Regions from separate parts of the Homo sapiens genome. Here region 1 is linked to region 2. The links come from fine-mapping of genetic effects on gene expression. Tissue or cell type: transverse colon. Region 2 holds a variant in brackets; the other region holds the start of a gene. All regions are shown on one strand. Distances are between the middles of the regions.

Region 1 (8,108 bases), 79 kb before region 2:
TCTCTTTTAGTTTTTCTTTATGCCCAAGATAAGGTCATGTTTAGTAAATGTCCCATATGCGTTTGAATGAAATGTACATATTTGATTTGGAATCAAACCACTTTCCCTTTAAAAAATGTATACATATATTTCACATACATATGTCACAAACTTGTGCATTACCTCAATAGCATATTACTAATTTTTTTTTTTTTTTTTTTTTGCTGGGTGTGGTGGCTCTTGCCTATAATCTCAGCACTTTGGAAGGCCGAGGTGGGAGGATTACTTGAGACCAGGAGTTTGAGACCAGCCTGGGCAACATAGTGAGACATCATGTCTACAAAAATCTAAAAAAATTAGCTGGGCCTGGTGGTGTGTGCCTCTAGCCCCAGCTACTTGGGAGGCGGAGGTGGGGAGGCTGAGGAGGTCCTTGAGCCCCGGTGGGTGTGGGTGGGGGGCCGGTCGAGGCTGCAGGGAGCTGTGATTGAGCCACTGCACTCAGCCTGGGCACAGAGCAAGACCTTGTCTCAAGAAATTTATTGTGGTAAAATACACATAATACAAAACTTACCGTCTTAACCATTTTAAGTGTATAATTCAGTGGTACTAAATACACTTATAATGTTGTACAAGCATCGTCACATCCATCTCCATAACTGTTTATCTTGTAAAACTGAAACTGTCCTCATTAAACAATAGCTCTCCATTTTCTTCTTCAGCCTCGGCAACCATCATTCTACTTTGTCTCTATGATTCTGACCACTTTAAGTACCTCATATACGTTTAATGGAACAGTATTTGTCATTTTGTGACTGGTTTCTATCACTTGGCATAATGTCCTCAAGGTTCATTCATGTCACAGCATATGTCAGAATCTCCTTCCTAGGCCGGGCGCTGTGGCTCACGCCTGTAATCCCAGCACTTTGGGAGGCTGAGGCGGGCGGATCACGAGGTCAGGAGATCGAGACCATCCTGGCTAACACAGTGAAACCCCATCTCTACTAAAAATTCAAAAAATTAGCCGGGCGTGGTGGCCGGCGCCTGTAGTCCCAGCTACTCCGGAGGCTGAGGCAGAAGAATGGTGTGAACCCGGGAGGCGGAGCTTGCAGTGAGCCGAGATCGCACCACTGCACTCCAGCCTGGGGACAGAGTGAGACTCCTTCTCAAAAAAAAAAAAAAAAAAAAAAAAACTCCTTCCTTTTTTTTTTTTTTTGAGACAGAGTCTCGCTCTGTCGCCCAGAGTGGAGTTCAGTGACGCAATCTTTGCTCACTACAACCTCCGACTCCCAGGTTCAAGCGATTCTCCTGCCTCAGCCTCCTGAGTTAGCTGGGATTACAGGCACCTGCCACCACACCTGGCTAATTTTTTTTTTGTATTTTTAGTAGAGACGGGGTTTCACCATGTTGACCATGCTGGTCTCGAACTCCTGACCTCAGGTGATCCAACCGCCTCAGCCTCCCAAAGTGCTGGGGTTACAGGCAGGAGCCACCGGGCCCAGCATCCTTCCTTTTTAAGGCTGTATAATACTGTATTTATAGACTGCATTTCACTTTTCCATTCATCTGTTGATGAACACTTGGGTCACTGATGCTCCTATTAACATGAGTGTCCGGATAACTCTGAGAGAGTCTGCTTTCAATTCTTTGGGGTTGCTGGATCCTACAGTAATTCTGTTCTTATTTTTTCAGGAAATATGATACAGTTTTCCACAGTGGCTGAACCATTTAACATTTATACGTCACTAGGATACAAGGGTTCCAGTTTCTCTACCTTCTCATCAACACTTGTTTTGAATTTTTTTTTTTTTGTAGTTACCATCTTAGTGGATGTGAAGGATTATCTCATTGTAGTTGTGATCTGTATTTCCCTAATGGTTAGTGACGTTGAGCCTCTTTTTATGTGCTTATTGGCTATGGACCATTTGTATATCTTTGGAGAAATGTCTATTCTAGTCCTTTTCTCATTGTTATAAGATTGTTTTGTTATTGAGTTTTAGGCATTCCCTGTAATCTGGATTTTAATCCCTGTGAGATACATGCTTTGCAAATATTTTCTCCCATTCTGTTGGTTGACTTTTTACTCTTTTGATATCGTCTTTGTTTTTGAGACAGAGTCTCGCTCTGTCACCCAGGCTGGAGTGTAGCGGTGTGATCTCAGCTTGCTGCAGCCTCCGCCTCCCGAGCAGCTGGGATTACAGGTGTCTGCCACCACGCCTGGCTAATTTTTGTATTTTTAGTAGGGACAGGGTTTCACCATGTGGGCCATGGGTCTCAAACTCCTGGCCTCAAGTGATCCACCTGCTGCGGCCTCCCAAAGTGCTGGGATTACAGGCATGAACCACCGCACCTGGCTGATACTGTCTTTTGATGCACAAAATTTTAAAATTTTTATAAAGTCCAGTTTGTCTATTTTTTTCTTTTGTCTGTGTCATGTCATATTCAAGAAATAATCCAGACCAAATCTGTGTCTGGAAGCTTCTGCCCTACATTTTCTCCTAGGAGTTTTATACTTTGGGCCTTCCATTTAGATCTTCTTCAATCCATTTTGCATTAATTTTTGTTTATGGTATTAAGGGTCCAAGTTTATTCTTTTGCATGTGACCATAGATGGTATGTAACCTTTGCTAATGGTTTGTAATTATCTGAAAGGTATATTAGCTCAGATACAATGATATTGCGTTTGTCATCATCTCCTTATGTGTAAAGTGGTATTCCCAGGTGCACATATGCTCATGAGTTCTAGATCTTGGGGAACTGAATCTTGGTGTTCAAAAATTCTTAGTCCATTTAGTGCTTTCTAGCTTGAGTGTTTTTCAATGCTGATATTTTATACTATTAATACTTTTTTGGGTAAGAATTTGCCAGGCTTTTTCTTCTTCTGTTTTACTTCTCTGTGTATTTTCTAGGATTCTCTTATAAACAGCATATAGCAGGATTTGTATTTATCCAATGTGAGTCTATATATTAGTGAGCAATTTTATTTCATTCATATGTGTTAAGATTATATTTAGGCTGGGCGCAGTGGCTCAAGCCTATAATCCCAGCACTTTGGGAGGCTGAGGCAGGTGGATCACCTGAGGTCAGGAGTTCGAGACCAGCCTGGCCAACATGGTGAAACCCCATCTCTACTAAAAATACAAAAAAAAAAAATTAGCCGGGCATGGTGGCAGGTGCCTGTAATCCCAGCTACTTGGGAGGACGAGGCAGGAGAATCATTTGAACCTGGGAGGCAGAGGTTGCAGTGAGCTGAGGTCATACCATTGCATTCTAGTCTGGGCAACAAGAGTGAAACTCTATCTCAAAATACATATCTATATATATTTGGTATTATTTTTGCCACCTGTCTTATTTTGTCTACCATATATTTCTACTTCATTTCCTGTCTTTTGTTGAATTGCAATGATTATCTGAAGGGTTTATAATACTGGGAACGTTCACTGCTCTGTTTCTGTCTGAGTTGTCTGCAGATGCTAACCTATAGTAAATCTAACTTTTTCCTTATATACTGTAATAAGAAGGCATATACCGGCCGGGCACGGTGGCTCATGCCTGTAATCCCAGCACTTTGGGAGGCCGAGGCGGGTGGATCACGAGGTCAGGAGATCGAGACCATCCTGGCGAACACAGTAAAACCCCATCTCTACTAAAAATACAAAAAAATTAGCCGGGTGTGGTGGCAGGCACCTGTAGTCCCAGCTACTCAGGAGGCTGAGGCAGGAGAATGACGTGAACCCGGGAGGCAGAGCTTGCAGTGAGCCGAGATTGCGCTACTGCACTCCAGCCTGGGCATCAGAGCGAGACTCTGTCTCAAAAAAAAAAAAAAAAAAGAAGGCATATACCACTAAACGATAAAAAAAAATTTAAATTTGCTTTTATGTCCTCTTCCTTTATTTTCATCTTCCTGAATGTGATCATCTGTAATTTTAATATCCGTTCATTTTTTCATTATCAAAATTGGATTAGACTATACTAAGGATGGGAAGGTCTACAGAGCAAACAAACTCATAGAATGCTGGTAGGAATGTCAGTAATTATATACACAAGGGAAAACCGTTGAGTGTTATGTAGCAAACATGGTGACCTGTGTTTGCTGTTTGACCTATAATTTATAAATCTAGAGAAATGTGTGCTTATATACACCAAACTACACAAAAACACTTGTTCCTGGAAGCATCATTTATGTCAGACAAAAACAAGACACATAAGTGGCAGTCAACTCTACCATTCACATGCATTTGTTTGGAAAAAGATGAAGCTTCTTCCCTAGATGATGTTTGGTGCAAGCTACGCATGATGATATCAATAATTTTGAGCTGCTTTCAGCTGCTGAAGCTTAACTCTGTAATCATGTCATTCTTCTCCAGGTATCATTTATTCTTTATTTTTGAGGATCTTTCTTTTCCCTCTGGAGACACCTCAGTTCACAATCCTGGGGCGATATGGCAGAATCTTTTTTTTCGGATTTTGGCTTGTTGTGGTATCTGAAGGAGCTCAGAAAGGAAGAGTTTTGGAAATTTAAGGAGCTCCTCAAACAACCTTTGGAGAAATTTGAACTCAAGCCAATCCCCTGGGCTGAGCTGAAGAAGGCCTCCAAAGAAGATGTAGCAAAGCTGCTGGACAAACATTACCCAGGAAAGCAGGCATGGGAGGTAACACTGAACCTGTTTCTACAGATCAATAGGAAAGATCTCTGGACAAAGGCTCAGGAAGAGATGAGAAGTAAGTGCTGGATGATGGGGCGAGGACCCATGGGGGAAGCCTGGGAACAAGGTGATAGCATTGTTAAATGAGTGGCCACCCCCTCCATCAGATGAGAATGTGTGTGGGTCAAGGTGAGAGTTGAAGGTAGGAAGAGTTGCAGGCCAGGGCTGTTCATATGTGGGCCAGCGATGAACTGGGGACAGATGGCGTCCTGATACCAACTGTTCACCTATGGAGTGTCTTCCCATTTTTCCACCCCAAGTGGAGTCGTTGTTATAGGAGATGAGTGGCCAGTTAGTGTCTGCATTGCCAGGTCTACTGAGATGGAATTCTAGTATGGTAGTTGCCTATCTTTTTTTTTTTTTTTTTTTTTTTTTTAGAGAAAGGGTCTTGCCATGTTGCTCAGGCTGGTCTTGAACTCCCAGGCTCAAGTGATCCACCTGCCTAGGCATCCCAAAGTGCTGTGATTACAGGAGTGAGCCACCATGCCTAACTGCCTGTCCTTTTTGACCAGACATGTACCAAGGAGTAGGTAGAATCTTAAGACAATCAGACAGCGTATGTCCCGGGTACTACAGGAAGCATTCTTGCGAGCTTGTTTGGAGGTTCTAGTAGGGGAGCACAGCTTCTCTTCTGCCCGCGATGGAAGGACCTTCCTCTATGGGCAAAGGTTGTCATCGTCTTTGACCCAGGGGAGACTTTCAGGACGGACGCATATGGAGCAGTGAGGGAGGAAGTGGACACCCACCCAGCTGGCCACATCAGCCGAATTAGCCCTGGGGCGACCAATGGGGTGACAGACATCACAGCCAGGTTGTCCTCACGTCCTGGAAGCATTCTTTCTGCATAATGTCTTTTCATTCTTATCACAACCCAGGAAAGGTTTACAAGTGAGAAAACTGGACAAAACAGTGTTCCCATGTGTTACATGACTTTTCCAAAAGTGACAGATCTGACTCCGAACCAGTTCTGCTGGACTCATTGATGGGGTCTACACCCTCCTCTCGGGGGATACTTAGGAAAAACTAAATATATTCCCTATTAGGTATCTAGTAATTAGCATTTGTTTCTGATGATTGTTATCTTCTCCCTTTACTTTTGAGTTCCATCAACTTCTGTTACGTTTACTTCTGTTTTGTTCATGTTTCTTCTTTGTGTTGGTAATTCTAATTTGAGACCTTATTTCGTATCCCCACATGCTTGAGGGTATTTTATTTGGTTTGGAGTTGCTTGCTGTGTTAGTTTTTTGTTTTTTTTTTTGTTTTTGTTTTATTTTTTTGAGACGGAGTCTTGCTCTGTTGCCCAGGTTGGAGGGCAGTGACATGATCTCGGTTCACTGCAACTTCTGCCTCCCAGGTTCAAGCGATTCTCCTTCCTCAGCTTCCCGAGTAGCTGGGATTACAGGCATGCACCACCACGCCCAGCTAATTTTTGTATTTTTAGTAGAGACGGGGTATCACCATGTTGGTCAGGCTGGTCTCAAACTCCTGACCTCAGATGATCCTCCTGCCTGGGCTTCCCAAAGTGCTGTGATTACAGGTGTGTGCCAGTTTTCTTTATCTGTGTGGTTCGTGTCTTTGACTTTTCTGCTGATTAATGTTCTATGTTGGCAGATGAAAAAATGACCGAGTCAGTGTCTGAACTGAGAGTTTCTCACTTGGGACACTGAGGTCCTAAATGTTATAAAAATCTCTAAGACATGACATGACTTTTTTCTTTTTTGAGACGGAGTCTCGCTCTGTCGCCCAGGCTGGAGTGCAGTGGCGCGATCTCAGCTCACTGCAAGCTCTGCCTCCCGGGTTCCCACCATTCTCCTGCCTCAGCCTCCCAGGTAGCTGGGACTACAGGCGCCTGCCACCACGCCCAGATAATTTTTTGTATTTTTAGTAGAGATGGGGTCTCACCGTGTTAGCCAGGATGGTCTCGATCTCCTGACCTCATGATCCACCCACCTCAGCCTCCCAAAGTGCTGGGATTACAGGCGTGAATCATCAGTTTTAAATAACCTTGCTTATGAATTTTGTCTCAAAAAAAAACCTTGGAGGTCAGCAAATGTTTACTATGGGCAAATATAGAAAGTGAATAATATAATGATAAATCCATTCAATTAAATAGCATAGGGTTTTGCCAGGCGTGGTGGCTCACACCCGTAATCCCAGCACTTTGGGAGGCTGAGGTGGGCGGATCACCTAAGGTCAGGAGTTCGAGACCAGCCTGGCCAACATGGTGAGACACTCTATCTACTAAAAATACAAAAATTACCCAGGCGTGGTGGTGCACGCCTGTAATCCCAGCTACTCGGGAGGCTGAGGCACGAGAATCACTAGAACCCGGGAGGTGGAAGTTGCAGTGAGCCACAATCACACCACTGCACTTTAGCCTGGGCCACAGAGTGATGAGACTCTGTCTAAAAAAAAAAATTTTTTAATAAATAGCATAGTGTTTTGTGATGAAAAATGTGCATGAATTTAGAAAGATGTCCATAATATATTGTTCAGTCAAAAACCATGTTTGAAAATAGTATATACAGTATAATTCTACTGTAGAGAGAAAAATCGGGCAGAAGAAAAATGTAGAGTAATACAGACACAGATCAAGCTATGAGCCATGATTACATACATTGATGACATTTTGGAATGGCCTTATTTCCTTTCTCTTTATCTGCATATTTTTTAATTTAATTTTTTAATAGAGATGGAGTCTCACTATGTTGGCCAAGCTCGTCTTGAACTCCTGGCCTCAAGTGCTCCTCCTGCCTCAGCACTCCCAAAGCGCTGGGATTACCGGCGTGAGCCACCGTGCCTAGCATGTATGTTTTAAATTCAAGACAGTTTTACAATATTAATTTTATACAAAGTCAGTCACTGCTCAGAGACTTGAATAACTCCTGTGCGACGGTGTTAAAGGGATATAGCGGAGAATAAAGTGGATGCTGTTCCCTCCTGTGATGTCCACAGACGAGTGTGCAAGGAGAGCACAGACCATCGGTGGAACCGTCCCTGCCTTCCTGTGAGCGACTGTAGGGCCCCTTTGCAATCTCCTTCCGTCCAGTCCCTTCCCAAGACTCAAAATTTTTCTGAAATTTGAAAACTCAGATTATGAACAGGATTTTAATTCTTCTCCCTTCCCCATTTCTCATCACTCATTAGATAAACTTTGCATAAAATATATATTTTGTGGCTGGGCATGGTGGCTTACGCCTGTAATCCCAGCACTTTGGGAGGCCGAGGAGGGCAGATCACCTGAGGTCAAGAGTTCAAGACCAGCCTGACCAACATGGTGAGACCCTGTATCTACGAAAAATACAAAAATTAGCTGGGCGTGGTGGCAGGTGCCTGTAATCCCAGCTACTTGGGAGGCTGAGGCAGAAGAATCGCTTGAACCCAGGAGGCGGAGGTTGCAGTGAGCTGAGATAGCGCCATCTCACT
Region 2 (8,094 bases):
GTGCCAGACCCCACAGCAGCAGCTTTGCTGCCAACCGTCGACACACAGCAGCCCCGACGGGCACAGACTGAGCCCTCCAAGGTCCCACAGCCGCAACGCAGGCACGAGGTCCAGGCCACAAGCCCCTCGCTTCCCCAGCACCTTTGGTCTGATCCTGGCTCTGCCACGTACAAGCTGTGTGTCCTCAGCAGGTGACAGCTCATTCTCCCGGCCCTAGGCACCTTCTCTACCAGCAGGAGAGCACCCCACTCACAGAGACTTAGGGGAAGCAGGGAAAAGGCACCTATCTTCCACAGTACTTACACAACTTCCTAAGCCACTCCAGCTGGGCTGAAGGGATGGACAGGCCATGGGAACAGGACTGGGGGAGAAAGGGGCCCTTAATGGATCCCCCACTCACCAGGCACATAGACGGAGGGGTTCTCTGACATGCCAGGAAGCGGCTGGTAGTCGTGAGGCCTGCGGATCTTTAGTGACTGGCCCTGGAAGATGATGCCATCAAAGGCCATAGCCTGGGTAGTCTCGTCCACTGAGCGGAACTGAATGAAAGAGAAAGGAGTGGTGAGGGATGGGGGTCAGGGACTAGTACAGCCCCTAGTGTTCCAGGATTGGGATTTCCTCTTTCCTTTCACTCATGTGAACAAATACAACATGCCAGGCCCCAGGCTGGGCACTGGGAGTACAACAGACACGCATGTCCCTGCTGCCAGGAGCTCACACTCGACCATTAAAAACACCAGGCACCCAACACAAACACAGAGGCAAACACACAATTGCAGGCTGTGATGACACGGAAGAGGGACAAAGTGCTGAAAAGGGATGTTACGGGAAAGGTTAGTTGAACGGGGAGATGACAGTACTGGAGTCTTTCTGGTGAGGGGGACATTTCAGCCCATCTCCGGAGCAATGCAACTGCAAGTGGACTGCAGTGAGGCAAAGACAGAGTGAGAGGGACAGAGTGAGAGGGAGTGCTCAGACAGTGAGAGGGAGTGCTCAGAAATCTCTGCAGTAAGCTAACACTGCCCACACCTTCACAATACTTCATGAGAGTTATCAGTCCACCAAGAGTCGAAAATCAAAAACCAAGGCCTTTTCCCGACAGTTGAGAAACACAGACACAGAAGACTAGTTAGGAACATCAGTTAGCTGGGGTAACAGAAGACTAGTTAGGAACATCAGTTAGCTGGTGTAAAGAACTCTAGCCAAGCAGGCAGGAGCATGGTAGGTTCTGGGAAGGTCAGTGTGGCCAGAGTGCAGAGAGGACTGGGCCGGAATGGTCTGGAAAAGGCCAAAGAGGTCTACAGAGGCCAAACAGGCCTCTCAGGTCACACAGAAAGCAAATGGAAGGCAGAAAGTAGGATCAGATCTGTAATGCTATAACAGGGCTCACTTCAGCGACCGGGTGGAGAAGAGGCTGCAGAGGGCCTGGTGGAAACAGCACAAGGCAGCTCCACACAACATCAGCCTAAGGGCTGGGCCCTCACATCACACACGTTTCCTGGACCTCACTCACTCCCCCAGCTCACCTCCAAAAAGGCAAAATTCTTGTCCTGGTTAATCTGCACAGCCAACACTGGGTTGCCAGGGGCCTGGGTCAGCCCCCCCAGGCGCATCTGGGCGTTGAAGAAATCCATCATGGCCTCCTGCAGAGGGAATAGGAGACAAGGGGGGGGGCGGGGGAAGGGAGGTGGAGAGAGGAGGGGAAGGGTGAGAGAGGGAGACACAGAGGGGTTTGGGGGTAAGGGGAGAGGGATGAGGGGAGGGAGGAGGGGGGGAAGGAACAGTGGAATATGGGTGGGGGTGTAGAAGTCAATAGTAAGAACAGAAGCAAGAGAGAAAATGGGGAGGAAGCAGTAGCAAGAGACGGCCAAGGGCAGGCGATGGACAGGCGTTGGGGGACAGCCACAGGGGCCCCAAAAAATCAGGGGAAAGGAGAAGATTGTTCAAGAAAAGGCAGAGGGCATGATGACAACACAAAATGAAGAAAAACACGAAACACAAGAGATGAAGAGACAGAGCACACAGGAAGGGCCACCCAGTGGAGACAGACAGAAAAGTGGCAGGAAAGTAGAAAGGAAGTGGCAGGCAGGGGCAGAGACGAGCAAAGGACAGAAAGGGAGAGCAGGACAGAGACGAGCGAGGAGGAGGAAGTCAAGAGTGCAGGGGCAGGAGAGGAGGAGTGTAGGGAGGAGGGGCAGGGACGGGAGGGGAGGAGAAAAGAGTGATGTGGAGGAATCTGGCCCTGGAGTCCGGGGGCTGGTTTATCAAATGTAGCAAAGTGCAGGTTGAGAAAGTCAGAATGGACCTTACTTGCCTTCGACGATGGTAGCAAACTTTTTGTTGCTACGAGGGATCTCAGCCCCACAATATTTCACTTTAAAGAGAAATGGAAACAACTCTTTGATCTCGGGATTCTCAGGGGGTGCCACAGGAAGGGGTTGGGGAGAGGGGAGAGGGAAAAGGAGTGGTGGGGAAGGGGGAGGTCAGGGGCGATCAAAAATAAAAGAACAGCGACCATGGGAGGGACGTGGGGGAGAGGATAGGGGACAGGCGGCAGAGAACGAGAGGCGTGTCAGAAAAAAACTGAGGGGCAGCGTGCGTCTGTGTGTGTGTGTGTGTGTGTGTGTGTGTGTGTGTGTGTGTGTCCAAGTCTCCCTCTCTGTCTCTCTCCGACACGTAGGTACAACACGTGGGTACATTATGTGTGTGCTTGATCCCTGGGTTGCTGGAGGAGGTTGGGGGGAGGGGAGACGGGAGAGGGGAAGAGGAGGGAGGGAGGGCCACCCCCAGCCCGGCCCCTGGCTGGCTCAACTCCATCGGTCCGTCTGGGAGGGGGCCGGGGGGTCTTGCAGGAGCAGAGTCTGACCCGTGCAGGTTGGGGAAAGGGAATGGAGGGAAGGGGAGGAACGGGGTAGAGGGACAAGGGAGAGGGTAGGGGGCAGGGGAGGGCAGTACCTCAGTGATGCCAAAGGGGATGTTGCCCACGTAGAGGCGCCGGGCTTGTCTGGTCATCTGGCTCCCGACCACGGGCACCGGCGTTGGGGTCACAGCCAGACCGTCAGGGGTCATGGTGGGGAGAAGAGCAGTGGCTGGAATCTGACCCGCAGCTTCAAAGGGAATAAAAGCCGGATAAAACCCCATCAGGGGAATGCTCAGTGACCACCCCTCACCACACACTGGGAGTTCCCCTCCTCAGCAGAAAGCTCCTACAGGCTCTCGGTCTTAGCACCTTCCAGAACCCTCTTTCCACCCTCGGGGCCCCCACCCAGTAACTGCTGCTCCTCAGAAGCCTCACTTCCTAATGGCGTCCAGATGGAGGCCTCATTCCCCTGTCAACCACGGGTGTCTCTGGTCATTTCCTCCTCTAGGGAGGCTTCAAAAGCGCAGAGACCAGAACCCCCAGGGGTGTGCAACCCTCTACCTGTGTCTTTGACCCCCTCCAAGCACACACGCAGGGGAATGACTGACGGAGAATCCCAACCCCTGTACCCTCCCGCTCTGGGAGCAGCCTGGCCAGGGGCCTACCTTGCATGGCCTTGTACTGCATTGGGGTGATGTGCTCAAAGCCTGGGGGTGGCACGTCCCAGTATTTACGGACCTTCTTCTTCTTCTCGTGGCGGGGGGAACGACTGGGGGAGGTGGGAGGGGAGAGCGGGGCAGGGCAACCTCAGTCTGACCAACAGTGGGCCTGCGAGCCCCCTCCCAGGCACCCTTTCACCCTCCCCGCAACCATGTAAGCTCCACTCTCTCCAGGGAAGGAGAGGGTCTGGGGCAGGGCCTGGGAAAGGGGTGCTGGTTTCAAGGTAAGTGGACTCTTCCCAGTGCTTGGGCCAGGGCTGGAAATGGGCGGGACAGGGTGCACGGGCGTGAGGAAGGTGAAGGGAGTGGACATCAGGGAGGAAGGGGCAGGAAGAGAAGCTCACATCAGTCCACCGTGCTCCTCTTTAGCGCCTCTGGTCAAAGGTTTGCTGGGGGGTGGGAGGGAAAGGTATGGGGAGGGGTGACTGGGGACCCTCGTCTTCCCCACATGCCACACCCCCCCAAGGGCACTGAGCCCCAGGGTGGGAGCAGGGCCGAGGTCAACAAGCAGCAAGCAGGCCACCCTCGGCCCTGCCATTTCCCCCCAAACACTCCCACCCCCAGGAAAGAGGAAGTGAGGAAAGGAGAAAGGGGCCAGGGGCCAGGAAGGACCAGTCTCTAGCTGGAGAAACTGAGCCGGGAGGAGGCAGGAGGACTTCCGCCTATCCTGCCCTTCCTCACCTAAGGAGGCAGAGAACAGAAAGGGGAGCCTAGAAGGGAAGAGGCGGTGGAAACCGACACCCCTGGGCCAAAAAGTCAGCCCAGGCTGTGGATACTGCCTCGGTCCCAAGAGCTCCCTTCTCCTGGGAGGCAGGGAAGAAAGAAACTGGAGGCAGAGACCAACCCCCTCGAAGAGAGTCCCACAGAGAGCCACAGAG[AGT/T]CGAAAAGAAGGAACAGGCCCTCAGAGTCAGAGACAGAGAACAACCCCTTGTGAAGGAAAACACAGAATCAATTCCCAGGCTCCAGATAAAGAGCCTATTGCCCCCAGCAACCCACCAGCAACCACCAAGACAGAAAATGAAAGAAACCCCAGAAACGGGGGAAAAAATCGGAATCCAAGACAGACCAAGCAGTAGATCCCTCCCCCAGATCCACACAAAGAACGAACGAGCCACACAGGGCCCGGACCCAGACACAGACACACACAGGCCACCCACAGGCCGGCCAACACCGACCCCCCGACTCCCAGGCTGGCCCAGGGGATCCCTGAGCCCTAGTACCTGCGTCGTCGCCTGTCCCGGGAGGCGCTCCGCTGGTCCCGGTTGCGCCGGTCGCGGCTCCGGCTCCGGCGTTTGCGGTCCCGGCTCCGAGAGCGGCTGTGGCTGCGCTTCCGATGCCGGTTCTCCTTGTCCCGCTCTGGGCAAGGGTGAGAGGAGGGGCACGGGATAAGCGGAGTAAGGATGCGGGCCCAGCCCACCCTGCGCGCTGGTGGCTATGTCCCAAGCCCCAGGGAGGCCACCCCCAAAGGGAAGGGATTCAATGGAGGAAGGGAATTAACAGGCCTCCTGGGTCCACAAGCGAGTCCAGGGACCATGAGGGGACCAGGGGGACGGGGCCTGGAAATGCCCCCGGGGTGTAAGATACCTGAGGATGCTCAGGAGGAGCTGGGGAGCCAGAGAAGACAGAGGAGGCTGGCTCCTGGTCCCCCTCGAGGGCTGAGGGGCCTGACCCCAGGGTCGTCCCTGAGAGGGGCAGGGCTAGAGGCTGGGGAATCAAGAGACCCAATGATGTTTTCCTGAAGGGACCCAGCGACCCCTCAGGAAAGACCTCTGCAACTAGCTGGCACCCACAGCCCCACCATCAGGACTAGGGGTCAGGTGCCAGGCAGGATCTGATATCCCCAGGAAGCAGGGAAACTCAACCCATCCCTTCCCAAGCCGGTGAATAATGCAGAAGCAAGCACCCTTCCCAGGGGAAGAGAAGGGCCTCGGAGAATCTGCAGACTGAAGGGGAAAGAGGCCCTCCTCTCCTTCAGCAGGTCAGGGGAGGAGCTTGCCCCATCCAGACTTGAATCCCAAACCACTTGAATCTCTCAGCCTCACTCCCTTCAAAGCCAAGTACTGAAGAGACTGTAAAGGCGTGAGTAGGGGCGGGTATCTCTGCCAGCCTCCAGCAGGCTCCCTCAACCCTCTATTTGCCTGAGGTAGCCACTAGGAACGGAGCCTCACTGGCAAAACCACAGAAACCTCTGCTCTCACCAGACCCTTCAACCCCTGAAGAGAGACCGGCCCTTCAAGATGGAGGATAAACCATGAGCATGGGGGGGCGGGGGGGTTCATGAGCACCGCCACACCATTTCCTTAATTCAAAGACACCCAGATTTCTCAGCTAGCCATGAAGCACACACACAAAACAGATGCACACGTTAAGGTGCTTATATATGTTAACACGCATCTCCTGGAGTGATCATCCCTGGGGACAAGAGGAGGAAAGGGCACTGAGGGAGGATGTTAAACTTCAGCCTCACCCACAGTGTTTTGTCTCACGTTTTTGCGATGCAATGTGAATGTCTGGAAAAGCATCACAATTCCAAAACCACCAACACTCAGAAAAATATGCACCCAGCAGGGAAAAAAACAGCAACAAATATTGAGATGCTTCCTACAACCGGAATCTGTACTAAATTGTTTTGTTTGTTCTTAATCCTCACTACTGCTTCGGAAAAACACTGCTGGGGGCTGACATAATGGGTAAGGAAACTAAGGTATAGAGAGATCACAATTACCAAGGTCAAACAGCTAGGAAATGGTGACACCAGAATTTAAACACTCTGACATCAGTGAGTTAAGCACGAGGCCATACTCTCGAATGTGGATCAGGCAGAACACTCAGGTCTGGCTAGAACCATTAATGACAATATAATTGTCCCCTTGAAGGCCAAAAACCCCAAAATCAAAAACTGAAATTGGGAGGAACAATCGGCAGGACAGGCCAGCAGTGTAGAGCAGCGGGCACACAGGCACGGCACTGGGCACAGCTCCTCGCTTATAAGATGGACAGGCTGTGAGCCCCAAGAGCCCTTTCTGCTGCTAAGGCTCTGAAACAGGCAAGCAGGCAGACAGGAACCCACGCAGAGAAAGCAATGATGCCCGCTGGGTGCCTGGGATATAGACAAGGAAATTCCCTGTAGATACAGGTAGCAGAGGAAAGGACTGAAGCAGAAGGCGACACGTACAGAAGCTGGCCCGTCCTCCGCAGAGACAAAGACTACAGGCAGTGACACGCGGGCAGAGCTTCCCCTATGGCAAGAACCCTCTCCCACACACTGATGCTGGACAGGTAAAAACAATGAGAGCTTCGTTTGCTCAAAACACTGTATTGTGGTCATCTTATGGGAGCAGCTCCGCCAACCCAGGAGCCGTGCCAGGTCTCAGGGACTGCCCTACCAGCACCAAAAGGGAAACCCCGGGAGAACCGGTGAAGCACCATCTGAGAGCCTCAAAGAACCGCCCAATCAGCTCCACTTGGTCCAGCAGAGTGGAACTTGGCCTTGCAGCCAGAGCTCAGAATCAGTACCTGCTTTTCTGCTTATGAACAACAAAAACCATGCAAAAGCAACTTAGCCTTTAAGACTTGGTTTTCTCTTTAAACGAGGGTCGTATCTACTCCATCCAGGTGTTGTGTGGCAGAATGACATTTGGAAAGCACCTTTTCCTGCCCTTTCCCAACTCTGACACAATCTCTGTGAGCGGAAGACCCTCCTCTCTAAGCATGGAATTTTACAATTGCAAATATCGCTTACTGCACACCCAGTGTACGCAAAGCCACATGCCACACACTTTACATGTTACCCCATTTAATCTCAGCTCTGCCTCTGACTAGCTGAGCCCTGAGAAAGTTTTTAACTTTTCTGAGCCCTCAGTTTCCTCCCCAGTAGAGGTGGAAATCATTTTGGCCTCACAAGGCTGTTAAAAGGATCCACTTAGTAAAACATGCTAAGAGTTTAGCGAAGAGCCTGGCACACGGTAAGCGCTCAGAGTTTAACTACATCTATCGTTACTATCATCCTTTTTAATCTTCTCAAAATCCGGTAACAAGAAAATAATAATCAGTCTACAAATGGAAAAAAATATATAAACGTATTAAAAGCAGTTACTAAACGACAAAGCAGGTATCTAAACTTCCTGATGTGCTCAACTCCAAAGCCTATGCTCTTGAGCAGTCCATCAACTAAGACAGAGTCAGACCCTCAGTAAACGTTATTGCTTCCCCAGGACACTGTTTCCTAATACAGCCCCTACCCAACTCTAGCCCGGGTTCAAAGGAAAATTCCTCAGCCCTCATTTCGTCCTCCGAACGAGCTAGGAACATGGGCAGCTGAAGCCTGAAAAGAAACAAGTCTCCAATCTTCCCTGGTCCTGTATTTCTTCACAAACTGAAACACGGAGGATTTTTAAAGCGTCTTAACAACTCTCCCACTTCTAATATTATTGGAATCCCTAAGATCAGGGCCCCAGGCTTTTTGTTCTAACCCATCACAATTTTCGATACCCTGAAGGGAACCTGCCTCCCACC

Evidence for each region. PIP is the estimated chance that this variant, and not a neighbour inherited with it, causes the effect.
Region 1: NLRP9 starts here. The variant in region 2 is the best candidate, but not a certain one, in a credible set for the expression of NLRP9 in transverse colon (GTEx, PIP 0.57).

Annotation. Positions count from the first base shown.
Region 1 is chr19:55,734,685-55,742,792 of GRCh38, reverse strand. It overlaps NLRP9 (NLR family pyrin domain containing 9), which reads left to right and starts at 4,391. Exons shown (of 9, transcript NM_176820.4): 1 at 4,391-4,698. The coding sequence starts at 4,419. It also overlaps the pseudogene RN7SKP109.
Region 2 is chr19:55,656,051-55,664,144 of GRCh38, reverse strand. U2AF2 (U2 small nuclear RNA auxiliary factor 2) reads right to left here. Exons shown (of 12, transcript NM_007279.3): 2 at 4,800-4,935; 3 at 3,924-3,968; 4 at 3,526-3,629; 5 at 2,956-3,107; 6 at 1,527-1,643; 7 at 401-539. Among named protein-coding and RNA genes, the nearest start is that of U2AF2, 5.1 kb to the right of the region's middle. The variant AGT/T (reference allele first, on the strand shown) is at 4,458.